4 linked regions of the Homo sapiens genome follow. The protein of the gene in region 1 interacts with the protein of each later gene in a pairwise test. Each region holds a gene or a part of one and is shown in the gene's direction. Other genes may lie near its edges.

Region 1 (3,500 bases):
ACCTAGATCCCTTGCATGCACAATTCACAATAGGGTTCCTGCTCCTGTGAGAATCTAATGCTGCCACTGATCTGACAGGAGCTGGAGCTCAGGTGGTAATGCTGGCTCACCTGCCACTCACCTGCTGTGGGTGGCCTGGTTCCCAATGGGCCACCGACTGGTACTGGTCCATGGCCCGGGGGTTGGGAACTCCTGTTTTAATAGCTTAGATTAAAAGAAGCAAATAAACATTATTTCACCTTAAACAGTCACATGTCATTTTTAAGGGAGGCCAGTTGTAGTTGGTGGTTTGAGAAGGGGTGAGGTTAATAACTCAGAAAATGATGAGTATTGCCATTCTAGGTGATATTATTTGGAAAACTTTGCCAGTGTTTCCTACTTCATTAATCAGAATATTGTGTCCAGAGAGCGAATAAACTAGAATTCCAAAATATCACATAAGTATTTAAGTTGAGGGCCTTCGTTCTGTACACATATTTAAAGACTTCAAGGAGGTTACTCTTATATTGCCCTGAGGGGGTTGAGGGACAAATGGGAAACTTGGTACTGAGGCAGACAATATATAAATACATATATATATAAAATGTATGTATTATATATAACATATATAATACATATATATTATAATACGTATAATACGTATTATAATATATTCTAATTATATATAATATATATTATTTATGAATAATATATAATGATTTATATATTATATATAACATAATATATATTGTATATCATACTATTATACTATATCTTATATACTATATTATAAGTATATAAGATATACTTATTATATACTATATTATATAGTATAGTATAGTATAATTTATACCATATATTATATATTATACTATTATATACAATATAGTATATATTATATACAATATTATAATATATAATTATAATGTATATTATAATATAATATAGTATTATTATATATTAATATTATATTATTTATATATTCCAGGAAAATGATATTAATTTTAATCAATATTTATATTTAAATATTTATATTTAAAATATTTATATTTAGATATTTATATTTAATTATATATAAATATAAAATATATAAATATAAATATATAAAATATATAGATATATAAAAATATATAAATATAAAAATATTTATATTTAAAATATAATAATATAATGTAATATAATATATATTATATATAATACATATAATACATATTATATAATACATATTATATATGTTATATATAATACATATGCACACACACACATATATAATATATATATAGCCTTTTGGTGTTCTGAAAAAGTCCGAAACTATCCCACCCACTGAAAGATCTCTTAATAGAAACTATTTGTGAGTTACTTCTGAGGCCTGAGATACATTGGGTGTAGGGGCCTTTCATAATGCATGAAGTGAGTCACAGAGATTGCAAATAATGTAGTGTGGGCCAAACCTGGTCAAAGGGTATGTGGGCAGTACCATTTCTTTCCAAGGAATTAGGCCAGTGGAAAAAAGCTGTAGTGGTCAGGAAGGTTTGATCAAACCCTTAAAGAGTAGTGGGAGTTTTATCTTCTTAGTGATTACTCAGCTCGAAGGAAAGCCTAGAAACAAAATTCTTTAGTTTAGTTCGTACAATAATAATGTTTGATAAGAGTTGCAAGTGAGGTAAAATGAGATTCTTCCACTGATGTAATAGTTACTTTCAGAATCCTCTTAAACCTCATTATTGGTCATTATAAAATTCCAGCCACAATTAGAAGGATTTCCCAGAGTTAGCTTTGTGGTTCTTGAAAAAGGGCTGTGTTTCTAACAGTTCCCATTAGGTCAAAGATTTAAATATAATGTACAAGTGACTTAATGGAGCCCTTCAGAAAAATAAAGCATTTATCATTTTCCTGGAAGGCTTTTTACACTGTTAGGTTCAAAAGTACGGACTTGCCCTAAGAATATTTTGATCTTTTCAATAAGTGTTTAAAGATATCTTATTTACTGTTGTTTTGATGACATTTGTCAAAATACTAACATTTGGTATCTTCTTTTTAAAAAGTTTTTTTTATTGGTGAGACAGGGTCTCAGTCTGTCCACCCAGGTTAGAATGTGGTGGTGTGACCACAGCTCACTGCAGCCTCAACCTCCTTTGCTCAAGTGGTCCTCCTACCTCAGCCTCCCAAGTAGCTAGGACTACAGGCATGTGCTGCTGTCCCTGGCTAGTTTTTTATATTTTTTGTAGAGATGGGGTTTCTCCATGTTGCCCAAGCTGGTCGCAAACTCCTGGGCTCAAGTGATCCACCTACCTTTTTCTCCCAAACTGTTGGGATTACAGGCACTGCGCCCAGCTACATTTGATATCTTTGAGGATGAGGAAAAAGTGTTTATGCTGTGTAAATAAACTAAATTGAGTCCTGCCTTCAAGTAGTGGAGATAAACATGTACTAGCTATAATCTGAGGCAGAGTTGAGAGGAGTTGGGAGGAGCAAATAATATCCAACTGAAGCCTTCAAAGTCACCCTCTTTTAAGAAGTGACACTTGACCTATGCCTCAAGGCTAACTAGGATTTTGATTGGTGGAGAAGTCCTGGAAGGACATTCCTGGAAGAGAATGCACCTTTTACAAAAATATGCAGGCATGGAAGCATGTGACCTGGGTGGCAAATAGTCAGTGGTTTGCAGCTACAACATTTTAATACGTGGAAAGAAATTTAATGAAATGGGTCAAGAAAGTAAAATTGAGGAATGCTTTGTGATTTAAAAAACAGTGAGAGTTAATTAAGATCAGTACACTTAAAGCAAACCTGAAACTTACTTTTTCAGAAGTGTAAATTACGGTAATATTTGTTATTTAAAAAAAATTTTGAAAGTCCATTTTTCTTCTAGGCTTGAGTTGCTGGTGTGTGAATTAACTCAAGAGTTGTTCAGACAACTTCAGTTAATATTTATTTGAAGAGAAACTTCTATGGAGAGAAAAGTTAGGAAACCACTTCATTTTTCATGAGAACAGTGGGATTTTGAAGTTAGCCAATGACAGAATCAAAAAAAGAAATCAAAAATAGAAATAATATTAGATGGCCAGGTAACATTCTTTTCAGTGCATTTTGGTTGTTGATATTGCAACTTGCTTTGCATTTTGTATATTATATATCATATGCATTTTGTTTATATTGATAGAATGGCTGAAAGTTTAAATAAGGCAAAAAATTGTGTTTAGGGAAAGGCTGCTAGGAAATTGATCCTTTGAACCCAAAGAAGATAATTCACTTTGTTCTCCTGGATTAATACAATTAAATCATATTTGATAGTGCTCTCTCAAGAATGTGAATTTTTTTTTTTTTCTCACAAACCCAGATTCTGTTTTTCCCTTAAGGACTGTACCAGGCCACTACTATTCACCATTGTACTGGAGATTATAGCCAGAGAAATTAGAAAAGAAACAAAAGATGTGTAATAGCAGCAAGAAGGTGCAATAGAAAGCTCATATGCTTCTTCTCCCCACAGAAATACTGATTCAATAACAATACACACACCA
Region 2 (2,433 bases), on another chromosome or scaffold:
TCGAGGATGGAGGATGGGGTAGGAGGTGACCTGACCTTCTAGATAAGGGGCACAGATGACTAAAGGCATCGGGATGGGCTGGGACAGGGCATGTTCTGGGCAGGGAGTGAAGAGCTAACCAGAGAGAAATGTAGTCACAGCCCAGTCCACCTCCACCCACAAGGGCTGAGGAGCCTAGGCACAGGCTGGCAGGAGAAGCTGGGGCTGCCGCTTCATTGGTAGGTTTGCATGTCCTGGGGCAGTGAGGGCACTTGCCCATCTTTCTTGTTCCTTTTTCTCCTTGAAGGGGCCAGAGCTAGTACTGACCCCCTTGCACTGTCCCTAATCTTCCACAGACCCACGAAAACCGAGAGCACCTGGTGATGATGGAGAAGATCCTAGGGCCCATCCCATCACACATGATCCACCGTACCAGGTAAGGACCCCAGTAGCCCCCTCAGGGTTGGTATAGAGGCCTTTCTCTTCTTGGCTGTGGGTCAGCAGGGTACTGGATGTGGTGAGTCTTTGCTGGACAGTCCATGGTTCCGCAGGCTCCTAAAAGCCTTCCCTGTGTGCCCCTGCAGACCTGTTGCCCTGGTTCTGCTGCTGTCTTGGGAGCTGCTCTTCCCCACCTCCCACCAGAGGCTTGTCCCCTTACTACTCCCACACTTGACTCCACCCCCTTAATTTTCAGGAAGCAGAAATATTTCTACAAAGGGGGCCTAGTTTGGGATGAGAACAGCTCTGACGGCCGGTATGTGAAGGAGAACTGCAAACCTCTGAAGGTCAGTTTCTGGCTACCCCCAGCTGAACTCATGCCAAGGAGAGACCCCAGGCACTGGGCAGACATACAGCAGAGACAGGCCAGGCCGCTAAAGGCTGCCTCCTTGATCCAGCTCTATGGGAGGCGGCACCCAAGACTGCTGGGTGCTGGCAATGGGGCTTCTTGCAAACTGCCCCAGAGGGGCCCTTAGCCCTACCCCTTCCCCATAGGGTGGCTATGAATGTAATTGGGGAACACCAGAAGAGCCAGATGTCAGAAGCCCTGCTGCTTCCTGTCCCTCTCTCTCCTCGAAATTTTGGGAAGAACTAGGCAGGACTGAGGTGAGGGGGAGGGAAGACCTAGACATGGCCAGGAAGCCTCTGTCAACTGCATTTGGTGCTCGGACAAGTGAATTTCGCAGAGGTGATCTCTACCCACCTGTCAGGACTTTGCATGTGGGGGCAGAGGCATCAACCCAGCAAGACACCTAGTAGCCTGGCAAGTTCCGAGCAAAACGTTAAACAGGCATGAAAGGAAAGGAGCTGCTCATTGTCCAGGAGGGCGGAAGTAGAGTCCTCCAAGGAGGCATCACTGCCTCCTCGATCCAGTCCAGCAAGGCGTCCCAGAGGCAAGGGGACCTGCTGTGGCTTCCCACGACCCTGCCGTCACACTGAGGCACCTTGTGTCCCTGAGCAGAGTTACATGCTCCAAGACTCCCTGGAGCACGTGCAGCTGTTTGACCTGATGAGGAGGATGTTAGAATTTGACCCTGCCCAGCGCATCACACTGGCCGAGGCCCTGCTGCACCCCTTCTTTGCTGGCCTGACCCCTGAGGAGCGGTCCTTCCACACCAGCCGCAACCCAAGCAGATGACAGGCACAGGCCACCGCATGAGGAGATGGAGGGCGGGACTGGGCCGCCCAGCCCCTTGACTCCAGCCTCGACCGCCAGGCCCCAGGCCAGAGCCACCCAATGAACAGTGCAATGTGAAGGAAGGCAGGAGCCTGCAGGGGAGCAGACTTGGTGCCCAGCTGCCAGAAAGCACAGATTTGACCCAAGCTATTTATATGTTATAAAGTTATAATAAAGTGTTTCTTACTGTTTGTAACCCCTGGTACCAGTGTGTCCATCTCCAGGCTCCTTGCCTTCCCCTTACCTGACCTTATTAATAAAGTCTTTCTTAGCAGTTCAGCTTGTGGAGAGCTAAGTGTGAACTGGGCCAGGCACAGAAGAGCTAGGCAGGGGTAAGACCAGAATTGGGGACATCCTCTGGGCCCAGGCTGCTGAGCAGTCCTAGATGGCACCTCTGCCCTGCTGGCTTCTGTACCTCTCAGCCCCAGAGAACCTAAGGGAATCAGCCCACCGTGGCTAGCCAGGTGGGGTCTGGTTTTCCACAGCCTGCCAGTCCCATTACTGGCCAGGACTTTAGGCTGTATGTGCCCAACAACTATGGCCTGCTGAGGGCAGGAGACGAGTGGGGCGGGTTCCTAGGCTGGGACAGACAGCACCTCATGACAGCCTACAGAGCAAGTCACACGGCACAGGACTCAGTCAGTCATTCAGCTTTATTTCAGTGCTGGTTTTTGGTTCCCTAAGAGCTGCATGAGTGCTAGGCTTCACCACGTGACTGGGGGCCCCTTGGGAACTGGGTACTATGGGCAGGATGCCCCTGAAAAGAACTGAAGACAGAG
Region 3 (3,500 bases), on another chromosome or scaffold:
TTTTCCCCCGCTAGGGCAGGAGCCTTGAGGAATTAAAATAATAAATTCCTTTTTTTTTTTTTTTGAGGCGGTGTCTCGCTCTGTCACCCAGGCAGGAGTGCAGTGGCACAGTCTTGGCTCACTGCAACCTCTGTCTCCCAGGTTCAAGTGATTCTCCTGTCTCAGCCTCCCGAGTAGCTGGGATTATAGGCGTGTGCCACCATACCCAGCTAATTTTTTGTATATTTAGTGCAGATGGGGTTTCTCCATGTTGGCCAGGCTGGTCTTGAGCTCCTGACCTCAAGTGATCTGCCTGCCTCAGCCTCCCAAAGTGCTGGGATTACAAGCTTGAGCCACGGCGCCAGGCCCAAATGCCCTTCATTTTATGTGCTAGTTTAGTGACCGTTTCCGTCGTTGGTAGCCAAAAACATCCCAGCTGAATGGAGAAGGTCTCCACGAGGTCAGGTAGGGCTGCAGTGGCGGTGCAGTTGAGACGGGATGATGCCTGAACTGGGGCTGGCCCAGGAGGAGAGAGACGGGGAGTCAAACTCAAAGGGAAGTTGGAAGACTCAATCCTCTTCCCCATATCTCTCTAGGCAGCAAAGATGGTTACAAGCTTCCCTGGACGTGGGACACACCATCAGGAAGGGGCCTGGCTGAGGGGACCCCTACCGCAGGCAAACTAGGACCAACTCTTGGGGCTGGCACCACCAGGAGCCCAGGCAGTCCTCCAACTCTGAGAGTCCATGGAGACACAGGTGAGACACGTGGCTGGGGTGAGGAGACTGGGACGGTATTTGTCCTGGGGTAAAGAGACAGATTCCAGACTCCCCACTGGAACCCTTACCCCAGAAAGACTCAGCAGAAATATACCCTAAAACAAAGGGTTATCGGCTGAGCATGGTGGCTCATGCCTGTAATCACAGCACTTTGGGAGGCCGAGTTGGGAGGATTGCTTAAGCTCGGGAGTTTGAGAGCAGCCTGGGCAACATGGTGAGCCCCCCAAGATATGAACATTAGCTGGGTGTGGTGGTACGCACGTGTGGTCCCAGCTGCTTGGGAGGCTGAGGCAGGAGGATCCCTTGAGCCTGGGTGCTCGAGGCTGTGGTTGTGCCACTGTATTCCAGCCTGGGTGCCAGAGCGAGACCTTGTCTCAAATAAAGACAAAAACAGAACCAAGAGGTTATTATCTAGACCGCTGGTCATCAACTAGGGTCGATTTTGCCCCCAAGGGGAATTTGGCAATATCTGAAGATATTTTGGATTGTCATGGCAGGAAGTGAGAGGCTACCCATTGGCACCTGATCGGTAGAGGCCGGGGTGGTGATAAACATTCACAATGCACACGACATTCCCCATAACAAAGAACCACCCAGCCCTAAATTACAATAGTACCGAGGTTGAGAAACCCCAGCCTAGATGGCATAAGTCACTGTGACAAATAGGAAAATGATAGGAAACCCTAGATGAGAAAGAGGAAAACAGGTGATTCCCAGAAAAGGAAGCCCAAATGGCTGAGTGTATTTAGAAATGCCCACGCTCATCAGGAACCAGAAAATACAAATTAAAACAATGGCAAGTACAGAGGAGAATGAGAAAGGTGGGTATTATCCAGTGTGAGTGAGGATGTGGGAAGACAGGCAACCCCACTGGACAGAGCTGTTTGATAAAGACAATCCAGCAGTATTTAGTAAAGTTAAGCATGATTAGGCTGGCTGCAATGGCTGACGCCTGTAATCCCAGCACTTTGGGAGGCTGAGGCGGGCAGATCACGAGGTCAGGAGATCGAGACCATCCTGGCTAACACGGTGAAACCCTGTCTTTACTAACAATACAAAAAATTAGCCAGGCGTGGTGGTAGGCACCTATGGTCCCAGCTACTCGGGAGGCTGAGGCAGGAGAATGGCGTGAACCCAGGAGGCAGAGCTTGCAGTGAGCCGAGATTGCGCCACTGCACTCCAGCCTGGGCAACAGAGTGAGACTCTGTCTCAAAATAATAATAATAATAATAATAATAATAATAATAATAATAATAATAATAATAGGTGTGGTGGCAGGCGCCTGTAATCCCAGCTACTCGGGAGGCTGAGGCAGGAGAACTGCTTGAACCTGGGAGGCGGAGGTTGCAGTGAGCTGAGATCGCACCACTGCACTCCAGCCTGGGCAACAGAGAAAGACTCTGTTAAAAAAAAAAAAAAAAGAGAGAGAGAGAAGAAGGGAGGAAGGGAGAAAGGAGGGAAGGAAATCTGCATGAGCTCCATGACGTAGATCTATAATTTTGCCCATTTCTCAGATGAGTGAAATTGAGGCACAGACATCAGTGACTCTGACATCAATAATTATTAGAGTGCTTATTCCATGCTAGACATTACACTAAGTGCTTTGCACAACCATGGTCTCCCTGAGTCCTTTTGACAGCTCTGCAAGGGAGATACGCGGATCATCCACAGTCTATAGCTGAGGAAGAAACTGAGATTCAAGCAGTGAAGTAACTTGGCCGTGGTCACCCCGCTAGGAAGCCATGCAGCTGGGGTTTAAACTCGGACAGCCTGCCTTGAGCACAAGCCCTTTACTTAACCGCTTCTCCAATCCTGCAAACAAAGGACAAGGTGGGGAAGGGATGCGCCTGAAAGACCCTGCCCTGCAGGAACAAGTGGAAATCTGTAGATCTGTGTGGTTCAATACGGTAGCTAAGAGCACCGGGCATGGTGGCTCACGCCTGAAATTCCAGCACTTTGGGAGGCTGAGGCAGGCAGATCACCTGAGGTCGGGGGTTCAAGACTAGCCTGAACAACATAGTGAAACCCCATCTCTACTAAAAATACAAAAAAATTAGCTGGGCATGGTGGCACATGCCTGTCATCCCAGCTACTCAGGAAGTGGACACAGGAGAATCACTTGAACCCAGGAGGCGGAGATTGCAGCGAGCCAAGATCGCGCCACTGCACTCCAGCCTGGGCAACAGGAGTGAAACTCCGTCTCAAAAAAAAAAAAAAAAAAAAAGTTAAATGAATTAACACTTTGAAAATGAAACATTTGCCGGGCGCAGTGGCCACGCCTGTAATCCCAGCACTTTGGGAGGCCGAAGCGGGCGGATCACGAGGTCAGGAGATCGCGACCGTCCTGGCTAACACAGTGAAACCCCATCTCTACTAAAAATACAAAAAATTAGCAGGACATGGTGGCGAGCGCCTGTAGTCCCAGCTTCTCGGGAGGCTGAGGCAGGAGAATGGCATGAACCTGGGAGGCAAAGCTGGCAGTGAGGCGAGATCGTGCCACTGCACTCTAACCTGGGCGACAGAGTGAGACTCCGTCTCAAAAAAAAAAATAAAATAAAATAAAAGAAAATGAAACATTTAGTTTCTCATTCACACTGGCCGCATTTCAAGGGCTTGGTAGCCACATGTGGCCAGTGGCTACTGTATTGGCACGGTAGATCACAGCGCATTCCCATCACTGCAGATGTGAGATTTCATTGCCTAGACTCTATGTGCAAACAACTTGGGTTCAAGTCTTAGCCC
Region 4 (3,500 bases), on another chromosome or scaffold:
CCCGGCTAATTTTGTATTTTTAGTAGAGATGAGGTTTCTCCATGTTGGTCGGGCTAGTCTTGAACTCCTGACCTCAGGTGATCCGCCTGCCTCAGCCTCCCAAAGTGCTGGGATTACAGGCGTGAGTGACCGCACTCAGCCAATTTTTTGTATTTTTTTAGTAGAAACAGGGTTTCACCATGTTGGCCAGGCTGGTCTTGAACTCCTGACCTCGTGATTTGCCCGCCTTGGCCTCCCAAAGTGCTGGGATTACAGGCATGAGCCACCACGCCTGGCCTTTTCCCAAATATTTTCTATCCATAGTTGGTTAGCGCAGAGGGCCGACTCTACCTGGAAATGTAAAAGCTAAAAATAACAATGGCAAACACATTTGCACTTGCTTTAGTTTTTAAAATTGAATTTTTAAAAATTTCAAGCCTACAGAAAAATTGAAAGAATAGTACAATGAATACCTGTTTACATGCCACTTAGATTTACCACTTGTTAACATTTTGCTACATCTGCTTAATCTTCTCATTTTGTGTGTGTCTTTGTCAGCCATTTGAAAGTTGCAAATATCGTAACTCCTTTCTGAAATGCTTTATCATGTGCTTTCTAACAAGAAGTATATTCTGTGACACAACTAGATACTGTTTTTGATAGTATTTTTGAGGGAAGACTGAATTGAATTTTGCTTAAGAACTCAAAAAATCCATAGTGAGGTCTAGTTGCCAAGGTTGTGAATATATTAAAAAGCCAGTTTTTAAAAGATTCATCCTTTCTTCACTTACTTTGGGAGAAATTATGTGTATATTTTTATATTCTGAGGCTTAACTTGCATTCACAGCATGACTTTATTTTCATGTGTTTTTTAGTTGAGCCAGATCGGGAGAAAGGATTTCATCTGGATGTAGAAGATTATCTCTCAGGAGTTCTAATTCTTGCCAGTGAACTGGTAAGCTCAGTAACTTGCTGGTTGCTTTTTTGATCTTTCTGCTTCACTGTCAGTTTTTTTTTTTTTTTTTTTTTTTGAGACAGAGTCCCGCTCTGTCGCCTAGGCTGGAGTGCAGTGGCGCAATCTCGGCTCACTGCAAGCTCCGCCTCCCGAGTTCATGCCATTCTCCTGCCTCAGCCTCCTGAGTAGCTGGGACTACAGGCGCCCGCCACCACACCCGGCTAATTTTTTTTTGTATTTTTAGTAGAGACGGGGTTTCACCGTGTTAGCCAGGATGGTCTCGATCTCCTGACCTCGTGATCCGCCCACCTTGGCCTCCCAGAGTGCTGGGATTATAGGCGTGAGCCACTGTGCCTGGCCCACTGTCTGTTTTTAAAATGGGTACCAAAATTCAGAACGTCTTAATTCTTTTCTAAGCCATCTCTCGGTCACCAGGTAGTCACTGACTGGCACTGTATGTGTTACAATTTACTAGGCATCAGAGAAAAGCCAGATCAAATGATGAGTGCATACTTACTGAGTTAAGAATTTTTAACCGATGATAAGACCTCTTCCTTTTAGGGTAGTGGCAAAACATTTATTCCTGGTAACTGTTAATCCATGTAATTGTTTTGGACACTCATTTGTCTATATAACTAAGTTATTCTTATCCTTTATTCCTTTAACCACTATCTAGGGAAATTGCCCTGTAAAAGTCTAAAGAAAAAAAAAGCTGTCAGTAGCAAAATTGAGTAGTTGTGATAGAGACTGTGCCAGTCTGCAGAGGTGAAAATATTTACTATCTGGCTCGTTAAGAAAAAGTTTGCTTGTCCTTGCTCCAGAGGAAAGCAGTCCAGGGCTGGTCTGATGATTCCTTGATCTTTGGCCCTAGGTTCTTCTAGCTTCAGCTTCTTTCTTATGTTCCAGAACTGTTGCTCTAGTCACATCTTCACTCTAGCCAGCAGTAGGAGGAAATAGGGAAAATGGTATGCCCTCCCGCTTTAAGGACATTTCTTTGAAGTTGTACACACAACTTCTGTTAACATTCTGGTGCCTTGCCTGCAGGGAGGCAGAAATGGAGTCTATTGGAGTGGGTATGTGTGCATTGAAAACCTGAGGAAGATGGTGAGAATGGATGATGGGGTCCACTTGTAGGCTGTACCACTTGTCTGGCTTGTTGGAGACACCTGACCAGTAAACAGGAAGCATCTTGTTAGTATTAGTTAAGTGTAAGGTGTCTTTAGGACCATACATGTTGGGGCCGGGCACAGTCGCTTACGCTTGTAATGCTGGCAGTTTTGGAGACCAAGGTGGGAGGATCCCTTGAGGCCAGGAGTTCCACACCAGCCTAAGCAACAAAGCAAGACCCCTTCTCTATATTAAAAACAAACAAACAAACAAAAAACCCGTATGTTGACAGTGCACTAAAGGGGTAAGCCTGGAAAAGTGGAGAGGATTTTACAGAAAGGGGAATCTTTTTTATTATTTTAATATATTTTTTAAAGCCAGTCAAATGGAGCAGTAGGGGGTTGTATACTGACACCGAGAAGGGGAGTCTTGGGTTGGGTCTTGAAATCAATGTTAGTTCTCCTTCAAGACAGGGTTACACTAACATAATTTTAGATTCTTATCCCAAGTCTGCCTTACTTGATTCTAGGTGACTGGAGTTGCAGCTTAGTAGGTGGGCTCTAGAAATGTGATCATTTGGCCAAGGTTGGAAGAGGTAGTGGAGCTGCTGTGATTATTTTGTCGTTTCTTTCTTCGATATGATAGCAGATGAGCTGTAAAGATGCTTGTGTAATGTAACACTTTATTATGCAATAGCCAGTTTAAGAAATTAGAGAAATTTTAGATGTTAGTAATGTTAAATTTTACTTGGCAGAACTGGTCTCATTTTCAGTGGGATTCTTTTCAGAGAAGCTCCTGTCTTGTCTGTACTTGTGTGTACCCTGAGATAGAAGATCAGCGTGGCTGTCTAGGCTTGCGGTTCTTCTGGTTGTGATTCAGAGGAAGATGCGCTGAGAAGGAGCCATGTTGTAACAAGCCCCTGTTTTCTCTTTCCTGGTACAGTCGAGGCTGTCTGTCAACAGCGTGACTGCTGGAGACTACTCCCGACCCCTCCACATCTCCACCTTCATCAATGAGCTGGATTCCGGTTTTCGCCTTCTCAACCTGAAAAATGACTCCCTGAGGAAGCGCTACGACGGATTGAAATATGACGTGAAGAAAGTAGAGGAAGTGGTCTATGATCTCTCCATCCGGGGCTTTAATAAGGAGACGGCAGCAGCTTGTGTTGAAAAATAGGAGGCTCTCCTTGCTCCTGGCCTTGCTGACCTCAGCGGTTGCCAGGAAGGGGTGAGCACAGAGTGCCTCTTACGGTAGTTAGGATGCTCAGTTGCTAAACACTGCGCTTTATTTTCTTAACCAGTTGTGGTGTGAGTATCAGAATTGAAACACTTTTTTGGGGGTAAAAAATATAGCCTTTACATGGACAGAATTTTTTTTGTTGTTTCAGTGAATATGCCTGTAATTCAGTGTATTTCAGTTCCGTCAGAAAGTGTAAATGTTAGTTTCTTGGTAAAGTCCT

What was found.
Region 2: the proteins of SDCBP (region 1) and CLK3 interact in binary tests that used the Homo sapiens proteins (3 or more experiments, as listed by UniProt).
Region 3: the proteins of SDCBP (region 1) and SSC5D interact in binary tests that used the Homo sapiens proteins (3 or more experiments, as listed by UniProt).
Region 4: the proteins of SDCBP (region 1) and TSN interact in binary tests that used the Homo sapiens proteins (3 or more experiments, as listed by UniProt).

Annotation. Positions count from the first base shown.
Region 1 is NC_000008.11:58,556,261-58,559,760, forward strand, and holds part of SDCBP (syntenin-1), read left to right. Parts: intron 1-3,500. UniProt on the Homo sapiens protein: Multifunctional adapter protein involved in diverse array of functions including trafficking of transmembrane proteins, neuro and immunomodulation, exosome biogenesis, and tumorigenesis.
Region 2 is NC_000015.10:74,628,269-74,630,701, forward strand, and holds the end of CLK3 (dual specificity protein kinase CLK3), read left to right. Parts: intron 1-335; coding exon 336-415; intron 416-673; coding exon 674-764; intron 765-1,438; coding exon 1,439-1,615; 3' UTR 1,616-1,933; downstream 1,934-2,433. UniProt on the Homo sapiens protein: Dual specificity kinase acting on both serine/threonine and tyrosine-containing substrates. Phosphorylates serine- and arginine-rich (SR) proteins of the spliceosomal complex.
Region 3 is NC_000019.10:55,512,436-55,515,935, forward strand, and holds part of SSC5D (soluble scavenger receptor cysteine-rich domain-containing protein SSC5D isoform 1 precursor), read left to right. Parts: intron 1-575; coding exon 576-737; intron 738-3,500.
Region 4 is NC_000002.12:121,762,151-121,765,650, forward strand, and holds part of TSN (translin), read left to right. Parts: intron 1-854; coding exon 855-934; intron 935-2,983; coding exon 2,984-3,217; 3' UTR 3,218-3,500. UniProt on the Homo sapiens protein: DNA-binding protein that specifically recognizes consensus sequences at the breakpoint junctions in chromosomal translocations, mostly involving immunoglobulin (Ig)/T-cell receptor gene segments.